Regions from separate parts of the Homo sapiens genome. Here all the other regions are linked to region 1. Evidence: fine-mapped expression QTL. A gene starts in region 1. Each other region holds a variant in brackets. All regions are shown on one strand. Distances are from middle to middle. Region 1 holds the start of TRAF1 (TNF receptor associated factor 1). Region 2 overlaps LOC105376253 (a long non-coding RNA gene). Region 3 has its middle 15 kb from the start of PHF19.

What was found. PIP is the estimated chance that this variant, and not a neighbour inherited with it, causes the effect.
Region 2: its variant is the best candidate, but not a certain one, in a credible set for the expression of TRAF1 in cerebellar hemisphere (GTEx, PIP 0.63).
Region 3: its variant is the best candidate, but not a certain one, in a credible set for the expression of TRAF1 in whole blood (TOPMed, PIP 0.62).

What each region holds. Positions count from the first base shown.
Region 1 is chr9:120,925,245-120,927,955 of GRCh38, reverse strand. TRAF1 (TNF receptor associated factor 1) reads left to right here and starts at 1,160. Exons shown (of 8, transcript NM_005658.5): 1 at 1,160-1,406; 2 at 1,655-2,020. The coding sequence starts at 1,881. RefSeq lists enhancers at 882-1,201, 1,542-1,881, 2,342-2,411, 2,008-2,531.
Region 2 is chr9:120,334,530-120,337,290 of GRCh38, reverse strand. The region is part of intron 2 of LOC105376253 (a long non-coding RNA gene); the gene reads left to right. Among named protein-coding and RNA genes, the nearest start is that of MIR147A, 91 kb to the right of the region's middle. The variant GC/C (reference allele first, on the strand shown) is at 1,568.
Region 3 is chr9:120,891,103-120,893,863 of GRCh38, reverse strand. It overlaps a transcript of PHF19 not described here. Among named protein-coding and RNA genes, the nearest start is that of PHF19, 15 kb to the right of the region's middle. RefSeq lists an enhancer at 1,024-1,243. The variant C/T (reference allele first, on the strand shown) is at 1,172.

The sequences.
Region 1 (2,711 bases):
GGAGAGAAGGGACCCACAGATGGGGAGAGAAGTCTTGGGTGCCTGTTTTATCCCAAACCAGGGGAAGGAGGGAACAGGTAGGGCTGGCTGCAGGAAAGCTTGCAGGTATGGGGTACACAGTTAAAAGGGAGTGTCTTCTGATAGTCTTGATGCAGGCCTGGAGGTCGTTTGTTATGGGGGTGGAGGTCCTGATGTACATTGTGGCGGTAAGATGCCGTGCTGTCTTTGCCACCAGCCTGTGGCAGCCCTGGTGTTACACCAGGGCAGGTGGGCAGTTTAATGTATCTCAGGCCAGATGACCTGCCCTGCCCACCTGTTGAGGCTCCAGTAGATAGACGTGAAAGCACAGTATAAGCATAATGCACCACTTTAATCCTTTTCTCTGAGGAGCTGGAAGGCCTGTAGTCACCATCTGAGCCAAATGTCATTCAAGTACTTCACTTGGGTTACACACCACACTTTGACCCACTATCTCATTTAGTCATCACAACAAATGGGTGAAATAGGTATTATTGTCCCATTTTACAGATGCAGAATCTGAGTTTCAGGGAAGTTAAGGACTTTGTCCCAGGGCCCACAGTTAGTAAGCAGTGGACCCAGGATTTCAACTCAGCTCTGTCTGACCTCAAAACCCATGATCTGAAACCACTGTGAAAGTTTGCAAAACCTCTGTAGCAGCCAAGCAGGATGGAAAGATGTGTAGGGATTGTCTTCTCCATTTGATAGATGAGACAAGAGCTGGGTACTCTGATCTCCATCCCAAGCACACAGAGCTTGGGGCCCCACAGCCCTGGTGTGAATCCCACTCCACTACCAGAGGCTGTGTGCCTTTGGACCAGGCATCTTGCTTCTCTGACCCTATATACAGCTGCAGAAGAATTCCTTGCAGGTTGCTGTAAGGATTTGGAGGGAAACTGTTGCCCAGCACACAGTACACATTCTGGGAGCCATCGTTTCCCCAGTGCACTTTTCCTGCAAATGTGGATCTACATCCCACTTGGATGCTGAGACCAGCTGCTGTGATCTTGCATTTGTTTAGCGCTTTGTTCTCCTTGAGGCAGTAAAGTGGTGGCACCTGACCGGAGCATGTAGCCACCTATGACTTCCTGAGTGGGGTGGTGTGGGGAGGGCCCTGAGGAGTCTGTGGTCCTAGGCCTTGGATTTCATCAGGGCTTTCCTGCTCCTTCTGGTTGCCTCAGTCCCAGGCAAGATAGGGTCCCAGAATCTTACAGCCCAGAGGCCACCTGTTGCAACTTCTTTTTTACAGATGGAGTCATCAGAACCCACTGTGAGGAAGTGACTTCTCCTTGAGGTCACCCAGACACTCCAAACAGAGCAGAGCAAAAGCGCCTAGAACTTGAAATTTTGGACCTGTCTCCAACACCCTGGGGATTTCCACCAGGAAGGTGAGCACCCCCACTGAGAATTCCAGGCTGCTCAGAGGTGCCAGGGAACACAGACCAGGGACCAGCTGTGGCCCCCTCCTCCGATGTGCCCAGGGAAGTGGGGGAAGCCAGCGGCAGCCTGCGATTCTCAACCAGGGGAACTCTCACTGTGCTTTCTGAGAGTCTGTGACACGGGTCATTTTCTCTGACTTGCTCTCTTGCTTTTTCTCACTCTAAAAAAAAAAAAAAATGACTGGACACTCCTAAAGCCTTCAGTCACCATCCAGGGGATTTTTATCGCCACAAAGGGTAATTCCTGCTCCATCCCTGCTGTGACTCAGCTGTGACGTTGAACCACACAAGCCAGAGAGAAGAAGATAAAGTCATCAGAGCTCCTACTCACCAGAGAGTGAGGCCCAGGCCAGGACTCCACAAGGCTGGTCCCCTGCCCTGGAGCAACTTAAACAGGCCCTCTGGCCAGCCTGGAACCCTGAGATGGCCTCCAGCTCAGGCAGCAGTCCTCGCCCGGCCCCTGATGAGAATGAGTTTCCCTTTGGGTGCCCTCCCACCGTCTGCCAGGACCCAAAGGAGCCCAGGGCTCTCTGCTGTGCAGGCTGTCTCTCTGAGAACCCGAGGTGAGGTGATGGAGGAGCGGAGGGTGGGCAGAAAGTGGGTGCCAGGGAGGGACCCCTGATGGGAGGTGAGGGGCAGAGGAGCCTGTGACTTCAGGCGGTGACTTTTCTTCTCTGGGCCTCAGTTTCCACACCCTTTTCTCACACTCCCTGACACTGCCCCTCTGGCTGTGGTGGAAGGAGAGGAAGCCACAGAAAGGCATCAGCTCCCACAGGGGAAAGCCATCCACACCGAGGAGAGCCTCGAGGCTGTGAGGCCACTGTCTCACTGTGTGGTCTGGTGCTCTGCTAATGTCCCTAAGCCGCAGCTCGCTTGTCTGTAAAGCTGTTTTCTGTGTCATAGAATTGTTAATGAAGCCCAATGAATAATAATCACAAAAGTCCTTATAATAACAAATATAAACCTCTTGGTGAATGACAAACTGTTAGACGAATATCTCTCCTTCCACAGCATTGCTCATCACCTCAGACCGTTTGCTGGGAACCCTTTTGGAGGGGACAAAGAGATCGATATATATTTGTGTATTTAATGATACTTAAAATATTAACAACCCAGAAAGGCATGATATCAGTACTATTGTGGACATCCCTCTTTAAGCAATTATGCACCTACTGTGTGCCAAATGCTCTGCCCTTGGGTCCTCAGCACAACTTAGAGGGGTGGATACTATTATGATCCTATTTTACAAATGAG
Region 2 (2,761 bases), 590 kb after region 1:
TGGAGTGTCTGATGTGTCTGATGTAGCAAATCAGGTTCATGAACTTGGAGATGGCAAAATGACACCAGGAACGGACCTTTCTGCCCTCCTGCTTCTTGAAGGCTCTCAGCACATCATGGCCTTAGCTCCCCTTGGTGGAGAGGAGTCAGGTCCCTGGGTCACCTGGGAGCCAGGCCTGGGATGAGTGGAACCCAAGATCACATGAATTATTTCTAATCATGCCATCTGCTTCCTATCAAATGCCGTCCTTCTTTTCTTTCTTCCACCTTCTCTTCCTTCCTCGGACTTTAGTTGAGCATTTCTTCTGTTGCAGGCCCTGTTCTGGTCACCAGGGGTCCAAGATAGAATGAGACACTGTCCCTGCACTCCAGGGCCTCCCAGTGCGGAGTGGCAGACAGGTGAAAAAGCAAACACCTCCATGTCCTGTGGGAGGCACTGGGGTCAAGGAGACCCAGGACCACATGGAACCCCACTGAGGCCCCAGAGGAGGCAGGGCCCTGGCTGCGGCCCCAGGGAGGCATTAATAGAGTCTGCTCATGTTCCTCGTGTAGTCGCACCCCTCATCTTTCTGACTCCCCACCTTGAGGCAAAATCTGGGAAACAGTTTCCCTTTTAGAGAACAAAGGATGGAGCGTGAGGCCAGCCTGATGCATTTACAAAGCCTTCACAGAAAGTGCTGGCAAGGGGCCCAGAACACAGGAATAAACTTCATACCTGGCCAGTCTCAGACACACAGCAGTTGGTTCTTTGGATTGATATTCTGCTCAGAGCTTTGGTTTCATTTATATCCTCCTGAAATTGGGGCCATTTTCTTCCTTCTGTCTTTGGCAAACTTGACTTAATCTTATGTCATACTTAGGACAACTCCAGGCCCATGGTCTCTCAGTGCCCCGGGCTTTACCCTGGGTGAAGAGGCATAGAGACCTTGTACTGTGGCTCGGGGGAGGGGGAAGAATGGGAATCTCAGAGAAGCCCCTTTCTTTCTAACCTGTTTTTATTGAGGTGAAGTTCACATATCATACAATTAACCATGTACAGCTTATGATTCATCATGCTGTGTAACCATTAGCTCTTTCTAGTTTCAGAACATTTTCATCACCCCCAAAGGAAACCCTGATTCATTTGGTGCTCACTCTCCTCCTCTGCCCCGGTGATCACTAGTCTGCTTTCTGTCTCTATGGATTTGCCTATTCTGCACATTTCATGGAAAAGAAATCATATAATATATGACTGTTATGGGCATATGTTGAAGTCCTAACTTCCAGTACCCCAGAAGTTTTCTGTGTTTGGAGGCAGAGTCTTTAGTAATTAAATTGAGGTCATTAGGGTGATCCCTAATCCGACCTGATTGATGGCTCTTGTAAGAAGAGGAGATTAGGACACAGACACACACAGTGGGAAGACCCCGTGAGGACACAGGGAGAAAGTGGCCATCCGCAAGCCAAGGGGAAAGACCTCAGAAGAAACCAACACTGCCAACACTTTGCTTTGGATGTCTAGTCTCCAGAATCACGAAGAAATGAATTTGTTGTTTAAGCCACCCAGCCTGTGGTACTTTGTTATGGCA[GC/C]CCTAGCAAACTCATACAGCAACTTGAAAAAAATAGACTTTATTTTTTTAGAGCAGTTTTCTGTTCAGAGCAAAATTGAGCAAAAGGTACAGAGGTTTCCCATATATCCCCCAGCCCCACATATGCACAGCTTCCCTGATCAACATCCTATAGTGACAGGGCCATTGTAGGATGCTTTCAAGGTTCATTCATGCTGTAGTATCTATCGTTACTTAATTCCTTTTGATAGCTGGATAGTATTCCATTGTCTGACTATTCCCCAATTTGTTTCTCCATTCCTCTGTTGATGGACATTTGTGTTGTTACCACCTTTTGGCTATTGTGAATAATGTTGCTATGAACACTAGCGTACACATTTCTATGTGGACAGGTGCTTTCATTTCTCTTGGATATATACCCAGGAGTGGAATTGCTGGGTCATACGGTAATTCTATGCTTAACTTTTTGAGGTGTTTATAGCCTTTTTCCTTGACAACAATTGTTTACAGTGTACCAATCGACTGTCCAGAACCCCATATAGTGTTGTAAAGAAGAACGTGATTCTGATGATGAACTGCCCAGTTCATACTATGGATTCAGTCCTTCCTAGGTGGGGGACGTTGGGCAAGTTAGTAAACTCTGTCACTCATTTTCCTGAGGTGGACCTTAGACGATGGTTGTGTAGATTAAACGGAAATGGATGCAAAGGACTTAATATATATGTCATTCAGTAAGTGTTTGCTGCTTCAAAATCTCTGAACGTATACTTAGGCACATAGCAAGTGCTCGAATTACTGGCTGTTTTTATTATTGTAGTTCACCTTGAAGGATCTGGACATGTGACAATGTCAGGGAAATCTAGGAAGAAGAAAGAGTGAGTCAAGGAATGGTTTAGGGACATATTGGGAAGGTGCATTTGGCTGGAGTGAGGCATAGGAGAGGAAGTAAGTAGGGGCCAGACTTCAGAAGCCTTGAGGACAACCTACTCTTAGTAGCGCCTTGAATGCCAACCTTGGTCTCAGTCCTGGAAGTTCCAGAGCAGAGGGTCAGATGTCACTGAGATCAGCGGAATGAGGGTGGGGTCAGTTTGCCCTCTCACGTGTGAATGGGTAGGAAGCCCTTAGTAACTGCAGCTTTGCTTGCCATGGTTTATGATACTGTAGCTAAATGGCTATACTCGAAATTTTCAAAATTTGTGGGCAAGTAGAGATTTG
Region 3 (2,761 bases), 34 kb after region 1:
TAAATTTTAGGCCCTTAGGGAAACCTACAACTCACCATAGACCACCTTCCATCGCAGGGATCTATATGATGTATTTTCTCCCTCGTAACAGTATTAGAGAGTTGCTTTCCTGACTGTCTGCCTGGTGTCCAACCCTCAGAGGGAGTGAGCCCCAGACACTACATTCAGTCATCTCTGAGTGCACCTCCTGTGCACTGCATGACGTGTGCTTTCTAAAGCATGCGTGCATCTGTCAAGCAAAAGGTCAAGGAACCGTTCAAAGATGAATTTGCTCACTTAAGTGATGACCAGGAGAGGGATCAGTCAGGGCTGGGAAGCTTGCAGAAAACTGCCAGAGGCTTCCAGAAAGGGAATGTACAGGGCTAGGGCTAGAGATTGGATGACGGGGGCAGACAGGACAGGGTCTTTAGCACATAAGCATGCTGAGAGGGGAGTGATGGGGCAGCCACACTCAGACAGGGAGCCACCTGCCATCACTGCTATAATCAGAGGGGCCCTGGTGTGGAGGGGAGCAGAGACCTGGGACAAGGAGCTGAGGGAATCGAGAGCTTCTGGAAGGCCTCCCCATTTTATTGACCCAGTGAATCCATGTGGTTTCTCTGTCACACTCTAGCTGGCTTGAGCAAAGGGAGAGCGTCCTCACTCATGTTGCACACATTACTGCCTTTACTAAGTCATTTAACAATGACATTCATAGATGAGGGTATTTCTGGTGTTGAAATAATCACAGCTGCCACTTATTAAGTGCCTGTTACATGCTAGGCACTTTACATCATCTTACTCAATCCTCCCAGCAACTCTGATAAGGTGGCACTGAGATTGTCCCCATTGTACAGACGAGGAAACTGAGGCTAAGAGAGGTTAGTCAGCTTGGCTAAGGTCCCAGTCGCTAGGAAATGGCAGGGCTATTGTCTTTCCATCTCTAAACTGCTGCTTTCCACTCTACCATCCTGCCCTCATTTCCTGAACACCTGCTCTGTGCAAGGCCCTGTGTGCAACCACAAAATGAATCATTCAAGTAGTCATGTATTCAATAACCCTTTTTTTCAGCACTTACTATTTTTATGGGCTTATTTATTTATAGCATGCCTTATTTCAGAAAGCACTTAACTTCTTTATTTGATATACAAGCATAAAATTTTACAGGAGTGGTCATGTGACAAGCATCAAA[C/T]GAAAAACAGAAGTTGGAAAGGTCAGAAGCACCCAGGAATGACAGGTATACAAGTGTGGACCTTGAGGTCCTATATGCCATGGGGACAGGCCACAAATTGCCCTCTGACCTTTCTAGCAGCTAAAACTTGATCCCACGCAATTCAGTGTCCATAAGACACTGGCACACCATTGCTGAGGCAAATCAAAACTCTATTAGGCCCTGAGACCTGAGAGGTATTTTTTTAGAGAGTTGGCATGAAGAGAACACTGTTAAACGTGAGGAACAATGTCCCCAAACAGCCTCCCAATTGCACGTACGGCACAAGTCTCAGGGGCCGTTTCCTGTACCCGCTCCCCACCGCCTCCCCACTCCTACTCCGTGCTGGCCCAAGTCCCATAGCAGGAAAACAGCTCAAAAAAGAGAGAGCCGAGACAAGGCCAGGCAAGCACACCACCCTCTAGCTTCATCCACGTGTGGGGTTTGCCGCAAACATTGGTAATAGATGCTAAATTCAGGTCCCAGGTAAGTTTTGTTTGGTCTGAGCTGTGTACTTAAATGGCTTGAATTAGTTGTCAGCTTTAAACAAGTTTCACCTTTTTAAAAATTCAGATTTTTGGCATTCTCTTTTTAAAAAAGAGGGACTTGACAACATGGGGCCCACATTCCCAAAGGACAAGAATTTGCTAGAGCCAGTCGTTTTCCAGTCCCCGCATGGTCCCCTGGAGGCCTTTCTTTGCTTTGAACTTTCCTACCTGGCTCTGCAAGGCGTCAGGGGTTTGCAGCCTGTTTTAGGATGTTTTGAGCCCTGGCACATTTGTGTGCAGAAGGATCACCAGGAGACTTGTTTATAGCACAGGGTCCCTGGTCTGGCTCCTTGGATTTGGGGTGGGGCTCAGACAGGCATCCTTCTACCAGGTGACTGTGATGCTTCCGTCTCTCCTAACAAGCACGGAAGACTGGGTGGGGCCTGTGGGGGACTATACAGCTGCTCAATGCTACTGACTCAGATAAACAGATGACTAGTTTTCTTTCAACACAACAAATATGGCAAATATAGTGGGGTTCCGAGTTCAAGGTTATACTCCCCGAGGTGCCTGGAGTGCAGCTCCTCTAAGTGGCTGGGTGGGTCTTGAGTCGTGTGCTGTAAATTATGGTGGCGCTCCACCTGGGCTGCACCTTGAACCACCCGGGGAGCTTTTCAACCCACACTCTTCACCCCATGCCTAGGCCACATCCAGGCCAATCAAACCAGAGTCTCTGAAGATAAGAACACAGGCATCAGCATGTTAAGGTTCCCGGGGTGATCCCAAAGTACGGCAGGTGTGCGGGCTTAAGATTGAGCAAGGTTCTCTAGGCCAATACCTTCTCTAGATATTGACTGTAGCTGGACCAAGTTCCTCAGAGAGGGGAGGGGAGGGAAGGAGAGGAGAAGAAGGGGAAAGGAGGGGAGAGGAGGGGAGAGAAGGGAAGAGGGCGGGAGAGGCAGATGAGTAAATGGATCCTTACACTAACTGTGATGAGCAGAAACCCAGGCGCTCTGGGGCATGAGCAGGGATACCTAACCCAGCCCTGGGGGCTCAATCTCTCCCCACCCCTGCAGGAGAGGCT